2 separate regions of the Homo sapiens genome follow, and region 2 is linked to region 1. The links come from fine-mapping of genetic effects on gene expression. A gene starts in region 1. The other region holds a variant in brackets. All regions are shown on one strand. Distances are from middle to middle. Region 1 holds the start of EME2 (essential meiotic structure-specific endonuclease subunit 2). Region 2 has its middle 5.6 kb from the start of IGFALS.

Evidence for each region. PIP is the estimated chance that this variant, and not a neighbour inherited with it, causes the effect.
Region 2: its variant is the best candidate, but not a certain one, in a credible set for the expression of EME2 in whole blood (INTERVAL, PIP 0.56).

What each region holds. Positions count from the first base shown.
Region 1 is chr16:1,770,416-1,774,663 of GRCh38, reverse strand. EME2 (essential meiotic structure-specific endonuclease subunit 2) reads right to left here and starts at 1,854. Exons shown (of 8, transcript NM_001257370.2): 1 at 1,190-1,854; 2 at 823-959; 3 at 312-404. The coding sequence starts at 1,436. NME3 (NME/NM23 nucleoside diphosphate kinase 3) reads left to right here and starts at 3,121. Exons shown (of 5, transcript NM_002513.3): 1 at 3,121-3,175; 2 at 3,254-3,384; 3 at 3,493-3,594; 4 at 3,671-3,783; 5 at 3,898-4,248. The coding sequence starts at 3,130. The coding sequence ends at 4,015. It overlaps MRPS34 (mitochondrial ribosomal protein S34), which reads left to right and starts at 1,530. Exons shown (of 3, transcript NM_023936.2): 1 at 1,530-1,865; 2 at 2,018-2,060; 3 at 2,151-2,769. The coding sequence starts at 1,545. The coding sequence ends at 2,443. RefSeq lists enhancers at 1-608, 1,466-1,605, 2,396-2,485 and silencers at 786-845, 856-965, 976-1,285, 1,316-1,415, 1,776-1,915 and 2 more.
Region 2 is chr16:1,797,145-1,801,392 of GRCh38, reverse strand. No RefSeq gene overlaps it. Among named protein-coding and RNA genes, the nearest start is that of IGFALS, 5.6 kb to the right of the region's middle. The variant C/T (reference allele first, on the strand shown) is at 2,610.

The DNA of each region.
Region 1 (4,248 bases):
GCACTGCTCCCCGCAGGCAGGGGCCAGGCTGTCTGCTGTCAGAGGACGAAGCCTGCAGCCTACTGCCCGGACCCCGGCCTCCTGACACTTCTCAGGATCCTCTAGGAGCAGCTGTAGCCTCCGCAGGTGCCCAGGAGCTTTCTCCATCTCACCCTAGAAACCTCTACGGCTTTGGATCAGAGAGGAGTCCTGGCCTGCCCCATGCCCCCTCCAGCCCCGTCTACAGGGGCAGGGACCGGCGGAGCAGGCGCCTCCCGGCTGGGAACCCACCCCTCCTGATTAGAGAGGGACTACTGCCACCACCCGAGCACCTGGGTCAGTGTGGCGACGCCCTGCAGAAACTCCTCGGGCTCCAGCAGCAGCAGCAATTCCTGTTCACCTGCAGCCCACACTTCAGGAGGCAGCTGTGGGGACATGGGGACGCGCTGCTGCCTGTCTCAACCCCGGGTGCCCCAGGGGCCCTGCCTGGGCAGTCCAGCAGCAAAGCGGTTCGTGGCCCCAGCCAAGCCCAGGCCCTGACAGGCCTGCTCTACAGAAGCCCAGTGTTCCCTTTCCTGCCAAGGCCAAGCTCAGGCCAGGTCTCTGTGGCTGGCAGGAATCCAGACCACAGCCTGAATCGAGACGGAACCTTCTCCAGCCAGCTCGGCTCTATACCAGCAGAACGGCTTGGGCACCTCCACTTCCCGTTCTCCATCCTTGCTTTACCCATCCGCGAGACGCGCACGGCCCAGGGCAGCTGCCTCAGGGACAGCTCCAGGGCTGAAATCATGGAAGCAAAACAGCCAACTCGCGGCTGGCCCTCGGGAACCCGCGACCACTCACGCTGCGGGGGCAGGGGTCGGGACTCGCTCGGGTCCACCGCAGGCTGCGGGCCGGGCGCTGGGGCTCGATGCGGCACTCGCAGCCCAGGGCCTCCAGGGCCTCCATCAGGACGTCGGCACCGGCGTCTTCCAGGATGGCTGGGACCGGGGGAGAGGAGCGCGGTCACTGCTTCCTTCCACCCTCGCGAGCGCCCTACCTGGGCGGGTGGCCGGACCGGGGAGTCTCCATTCGGCACAAACCCCCGACTGGGAGGCGGGCCCGGCCCCAGGCCCCTCGGCACGCGCGCCCCGCCCAGTCGGACAGAGGGCGCCGCCTGGCGGAGAAAGGCCTTTCCTACCCCGAGTATCGCCCGTGCCCTCCGCCGCACCTGTGTCCACGCACACCGCGAGGCGCTTCAGGACCTGCTCCGGCCGCAGCAGCCGCAACGCCTCGGCAGCCGCCCTGCGCTCACCCGCTGGGTCCCGGGCTCTCGCGGCGGCCTCCGAGCCGGCGGAGTCCTCAGCGTCGGAGTCTGAGATCTCCCAGGTTGGAGGTCGCCGCTGACCGCTCCCGCCCCGTCCCCGGCCCCGGCCCTGGCAAGAGACCCCCGCCCTCCCGGGTCCAACCCGCGCCATGGCCGGACCGACCTCTTCCTCGCTTCCGGCCGCGACCGAACACTTTAGCCTGGGACACCGGCCTCTTCCGGTGACTTCCGGCCGGACCGCTGAGGACGCGGACCCGCCATGGCGCGGAAGAAGGTGCGTCCGCGGCTGATCGCGGAGCTGGCCCGCCGCGTGCGCGCCCTGCGGGAGCAACTGAACAGGCCGCGCGACTCCCAGCTCTACGCGGTGGACTACGAGACCTTGACGCGGCCGTTCTCTGGACGCCGGCTGCCGGTCCGGGCCTGGGCCGACGTGCGCCGCGAGAGCCGCCTCTTGCAGCTGCTCGGCCGCCTCCCGCTCTTCGGCCTGGGCCGCCTGGTCACGCGCAAGTCCTGGCTGTGGCAGCACGACGAGCCGTGCTACTGGCGCCTCACGCGGGTGCGGCCCGACTACACGGCGCAGGTGCGTGCACCCCGTCCGCACCCCGCCCCTGCAGCCGCCTGGTCTCCCCGCCTCCCCTCCTCCCTGCAGGTTTGCGTGGCTGAGGCTCCCACCTCCTGACCTCGGGGGCCGAGAGCTTTGCGAGCTGACCCCGCTTCCTTCTGGCTTTGCAGAACTTGGACCACGGGAAGGCCTGGGGCATCCTGACCTTCAAAGGTAAGGCTCGGGAGAGCGGGTGCCCGGCAGTTCGATGCCGACCGCCGACGGCACAGCAAGTGTGTGCAGACGCCTCTTTTTCTTCATCAGGGAAGACTGAGAGCGAGGCGCGGGAGATCGAACACGTCATGTACCATGACTGGCGGCTGGTGCCCAAGCACGAGGAGGAGGCCTTCACCGCGTTCACGCCGGCGCCGGAAGACAGCCTGGCCTCCGTGCCGTACCCGCCTCTCCTCCGGGCCATGATTATCGCAGAACGACAGAAAAATGGAGACACAAGCACCGAGGAGCCCATGCTGAATGTGCAGAGGATACGCATGGAACCCTGGGATTACCCTGCAAAACAGGAAGACAAAGGAAGGGCCAAGGGCACCCCCGTCTAGAATGCCAGAACCAGCGGGTGGCCTTAGGGGCTGTGAGGCAGTGGGGACCTTATTGATGAAAGAAACCGTCTTTGCGTTACACCCGAGTCTGCCTCTCGGAGCAGGGAGCTCACCTTCCGCGACGTGTTCTGAGGGTCTGCATCTTAGGGGGGAGGGCTGGGGCAAATCGCCACCTGTGCCTTTCCTCTGGCCCTGCTGCCCCCACACCCAACTCCGAGGGCCCACGCTGGGGAAAGCGGGAAGCGCTCGCTCCCTTTCCCCCATTAGTGCTCTCTCTGCCTGGATCCCGGCAGAAGCTATGAAAGGGAATAAAGAGAAAAGAAGTACCCAGGGTCGTGGTGTCTTTGCGCTCTGTCTTTAGGACCGGGGAGAGAAGGGCTGACGCTGTGGTCGTGGCCCTGGCCGGGGGGGCGCGGGGGGGGCGGGGTTCGGGCGGTGCGGAGCAGGGCGCCGCGTGGGTGGAACCACCTGGGCGGGTTGTGGGGGATACAGTTAGTGTCCGAGCTGCTGGAGGAGACTTGGCCTCCGCAGCTGCCCTCCGGCCCCCCACGGCTGCCGGGTTCCGGGGTGCAAGTGAAGCAGCCTCCCCGCGGAGGCCGCAGCGCCCCGACCAGGCCTCTTTAAGCGCAGGCCCCGCCCCGGGCGCCACCGCCCCGCCCCGCGGATCCCGCTCCCGCACCGCCATCATGATCTGCCTGGTGCTGACCATCTTCGCTAACCTCTTCCCCGCGGGTGAGCCGCGCGGCGCGGGCCGGGGGCGGGTGGCCGGTGCTGGGCCGGCCTGACGGCCCGTCCCCGCCTGCCCCGCAGCCTGCACCGGCGCACACGAACGCACCTTCCTGGCCGTGAAGCCGGACGGCGTGCAGCGGCGGCTGGTGGGCGAGATTGTGCGGCGCTTCGAGAGGAAGGGCTTCAAGTTGGTGGCGCTGAAGCTGGTGCAGGTGGGGGCGCGGTGAGCGAGCGGGGGCGCGGTGTGGGGGGAAGGGGAGCGGGGACCTGGGGACGCCTAGGTGCCGGGTGCGGGCGCAGGCGGCCTGACCCTTCCGCAGGCCTCCGAGGAGCTGCTGCGTGAGCACTACGCCGAGCTGCGTGAACGCCCGTTCTACGGCCGCCTTGTCAAGTATATGGCCTCCGGGCCGGTGGTGGCCATGGTGAGTATCCGGGAAGCGGGCGGGCGGCTCCGGGACCCCCACCCCCGCGTGATACCGCGCCCGTTCCTCCGCACAGGTATGGCAGGGGCTGGACGTGGTGCGCACCTCGCGGGCGCTCATCGGAGCCACGAACCCGGCCGACGCCCCGCCCGGCACCATCCGCGGGGATTTCTGCATCGAGGTTGGCAAGTAAGGCCCGCCCCGGGGACGGTCCCAGCCCCGTCCGGCCTCCCCCTGTTCAGCCTGCGTGGTACCCGTGCCGGAGGTCTCTTTCCCACGCTCACACGCGCCTCTTCCGCGCAGGAACCTGATTCACGGCAGCGACTCGGTGGAGAGTGCCCGCCGCGAGATCGCTCTCTGGTTCCGCGCAGACGAGCTCCTCTGCTGGGAGGACAGCGCTGGGCACTGGCTGTATGAGTAGCCCGGCAGATGCGCGTCACAGAGGCTCTCACACTCCAGCCTCCTCCAGGGCCCAGGTGGGCGGGCTTCTGGCCCCACCCCACAGCGCTTGGAGCATCCCTTTGGACGGGCTGCTGAACATCCACCTGTCTGGACGTTGCATGGAGGGTGGCGCAGGCCTCTCCAATCCCTGGCGTACAGGGTTTCCTGCCCGAGGAGCTGCTCCAGGAGCCTGCGCGGCTCGCCTGGAAACGT
Region 2 (4,248 bases), 27 kb before region 1:
CGAGGTCAGGAGATCGAGACCATCCTGGCTAACACGGTGAAACCCCATCTCTACTAAAAATACAAAAAATTAGCCAGGCGTGGTGGTGGGTGCCTGTAGTCCCAGCTACTCAGGAGGCTGAGGGTGGAGAATGGCATGAACCCAGGAGGCAGAGCTTGCAGTGAGCCAAGATCACGCCACTGCACTTCAGCCTGGGGGACAGAGCAAGACTCTGTCTCAAAAAAAAAAAAAATTATGCCCACACTAGAAAACAGTTTTTTAAAGGAGATACAACACTATGAACCAGCAACTCCACTCCTAAGACTGTACCCAAGAAAAATGAAACCTGTGTCCAAAGACTTGCACACAAATAGAGTAGCATTTTTCACAGTAACCCCAAATGGAAACAGTCCAAGCCTCCAGCAACTAAGGAGGCGCCATGAACAAATGTGGCCACAGAGCGGAGCATCGTTCAGCTGCAAAGCACGAAGCATTACTCCGTGTCACGGCATGGATGAGCCTCCAAAACACCGCATCCAGGGAAGAAACCAGATGCAGAGTGTACAGCTCATGTGGGAAAGGCGGAGGGCAGTGCTGGCTGCACAACACGCATTTCCTGTCACCGACTTGCACACTTAACAGTGAGAGAATTTTATGCTCTATAAATTATAAATCAATAAAACTGTTTTAGAAACAGAATCATAGAGTAAAGGGAACACATTACTTCATACTTAGTTATCTCAGCCTGTCTAGAAAACAATTCCAACCCTGACAGACAGCAAATGAAATTGAGGAGAGAAAATGATAATGCATAATAGTATAAAAGCAACAATCATATATAAAAAGAACCGAAAAAAATACATGCAAGAGCACAACATAGAAAATCTACAAAAACACAAGAGACGCAAGTCCTAGGTAAAGGAGGAAATACTGCATGTCCCCAGGTGGGAAGGCTCAGTACAGGAAGACGTCACAGACTGCAGGGCTACTCAGAATTTGGTTTTGTTTTAGAGACTCAACAGCTGCTTCCAAGGTTTATATGGAAACGCAAAGGACTGGGAAGAGCCAAGATGCTCTTAAACAATGAGGCCCTACTCTACCAGATGTGAGAATTTCCTGAAAATAACAGGGAGACCCCATCTCTACAAAAAAATAAAAATTAGCTGAGCATGGTGGCACACAGCACACCTGTGAGTCCCAGCTACTTGGGAGGCTGAGGCGGGAGGATCACCTGAGCCTGGGAGGTTGAGGCTGCAGTGAGCCAAGATGGCGCCACTGCACTCCAGCCTGGGAAACAGAGCAAGACAGTGTCTCCAAAAAGAAAGAAAGAAAGAAAAAAAACTCCAGCTTACCAAAAAGCCACCACTGTGCAGAGAGCATGGCAGTGGACAGACAAAGGGGGCCAAGAATCCAGAAAGGGGCCCAGGCTTAGATGGGCTTGGTTTATGATGGGCAGTGACACCCCTTCCACCAAACGGCACAGAGGCTGATGGTAACCACCACACGGGAACAGTTAACCCTGAGCCTGGCCTCTCCCTCTTAAGAGGCCGATTAGAAGGGAAAACAGGACAGTGTTGGCACAAAATAGTACTTGAAACCGTAAAAATAAAATAGAGGACATTAAGAATTTTGCCGTTTTCCCATCTGCATTAGTCCATTCTCACATTGCTATAAAGGACTGCCTGAGAGTGGGTAATTTATAAAGAAAAGAGGTTTAATTGACTTGCAGTTCCACAAGGCTGGCGAGGCCTCAGGAAACTTACAATCATGGTGGGTAAGGACGCAAACATGTGCTTCTTCACATGGCAGCAGGAGAGAGAAATTAGTGCCCAGTGAAGGGGGAAGCCCCTTATAAAACCATCAGATCTCATGAGAACTCACTTTCAAGAGAACAGGATGGCAGGAACCACGCCCATGATTCGGCCATTCCACTGGGTCCCGTGCACAACATGTGGGGATTATGGGAACTACAATTCAAGATAAGATTTGGGTGGGGACACAGCCCAACCATATCATTCCACCTCTGGCCCCTCCTAAACCGCATGTCCTCACAATTCAAAACACAATCATGCCCTTCCAGCCATCCCCCAAAGTCTTAACTCATTCCAGCATTAACCCAAAAGTCCAAGTCCAGAGTCTCATCTGAGACAAAGCAAGTCCCTTCTGCCTATAAGCCTGTAAAATCAAAAGCCAAGTGAGTTACTTCCTAGATACAGTGGGGGTACAGGCATTGGGTAAATACACCTATTCCAAATGGGAGAAATTGGCCAAAACAAAGGGGCTACAGGCCCCAGGCAAATCTGAAATCCAACAGGGCAGTCAAATCTTAAAGCTCCAAAATGATCTCCTTTGACTCCATGTCTCACATCCAGATCACACTGATGCAAGAGCTGGGTTCCCAAGGCCTTGGGCAGCTCCACCCCTGTGGCTATGCAGGGTACAGCCCCCCTCCCAGCTGCTTTCACAGGCTTGTGACAAGTGTCTGTGGCTTTTCCAGGTCCATGGTGCAAGCTGTTGTCGGTGGATCTACCATTCTGGGGTCTGGAGGATGGTGGCCCTTTTCTCACAGCTCCACTAGGCAGTGCCCTAGTAGGGACCCTGTGGAGGGATCCAACCCCACATTTCCCTTC[C/T]GTATTGCCCTAGCAGAGGTTCTCTGTGAAGACTCTACCCCTGCAGCACACTTCTGCCTGGACATCCAGTAGTTCCTATACATCCTCTGAAATCCAGGCAGAGGTTCCTAAACCTGAATTTTTAATTTATTAATTTATTTATGTTTGAGATGGCGTCTTGCTCTGTCACCCAGGCTGGAGTGCAGTGGCATGATCTTGGCTCACTGCAACTTCTGCCTCCCAGGTTCAAGTGATTCTCCCACCTCAGCCTCCCAGGTAGCTGGGACTAGAGGCGTGCACCACCATGCTTGGCTAATTTTTGTATTTTTAGTAGGGACACGGTTTCACCATGTTGGCCAGGCTGGTCTCAAACTCCTGACCTCAGGTGATCCACTTGCCTCGGCCTCCCAAAGTGTTGGGATTACAGGCGTGAGCCATTGCACCTAGCTCCCAAACCTCAATTCTTGACTTCTGGGCATCTGCAGGCCCAATACCACATGGAAACTGCCAAGGCTTGGGGCTTGCACCCTCTGAAGCAACAGTCTGAGCTGTACCTTGGCTCCTTTAGCCATGGCTGGGAGGCAGGGCACCCGAGACTACACAAAGCAGCAAGGCCCTGGGTCTGGTCCACTAAACCATTTTTTCCTCCTAGGCCTCGGGGCCTGTGATGGGAGGGGCTGCCCTGAAGACGTCTGACATGCCCTGGAGACATTTTCCCCACTGTCTTGGTGATTAACATTTGGCTCCTTGTTATGCAAATTTCTGCAGCCAGCTTAAATTTCTCCTCAGAAAATGGGCTTTTCTGTTTTATGGCATCATCACGCTGCAAATTTTTCAGTCTTTTATGGTTGGCTTCCCTTTTAAACATAAGTTCCAATTCCAAACCATATCTTTGTGAATACATAAAACTGAATGCTTTTAACAGCATCCAGGTCACATTTTGAACAGTTTGCTGCTTAGAAATTTCTTTCACTGGCTGGGCGCAGTGGCTCATGCCTGTAATCCCAGCACTTTGGGAGGCCAAGGCGGGCAGATCACAAGGTCAGGAGATCAAGACGCTCCTGGCCAACATGGTGAGACCCTGTCTCTACTAAAAATACAAAAATTAGCTGGGTGTGACAGCGTGCTTCTGTAGTTCCAGCTACTCAGGAAGCTGAGACAGGAGAATCGCTTGAACATGGGAGGCAGTGGTTGCAGTGAGCCGAGATTGCGCCACTGCACTCCAGCCTGGGTGACAAAGTGAGACTCCATCTCAGAAAAAAAAAAAAAAATTTATTTCACTAGATGCCCTAAATCATCTCTCACAAGTTCAAAGTTCCACAAATCTCTAGAGCAGGGGCAACATGCCACCAGTCTCTGCTAAAACATAGCAAGAGTCACCTTTATTCCAGTTTCCTACAAGTTCCTCTTCTCCGAGACCACCTCAGCCTGGACTTTGTTGGCCATATCACTATCAGGATTTTGGTCAAAGGCATTCAGCAAGTCTAGGAAGCGCCAGACTTTCCCACATCTTCCTGTCCTTTTCTGAGCCCTCCAAACGGTTCCAACCTCTGCCTGCTACCCAGTTCCAAAGTCACTTCCACATTTTTGGGTATCTTTACAGCAGTGTCCCACTGTAATAATAATTATTACAGTAATAATTTACTGTATTAGTCTTTTC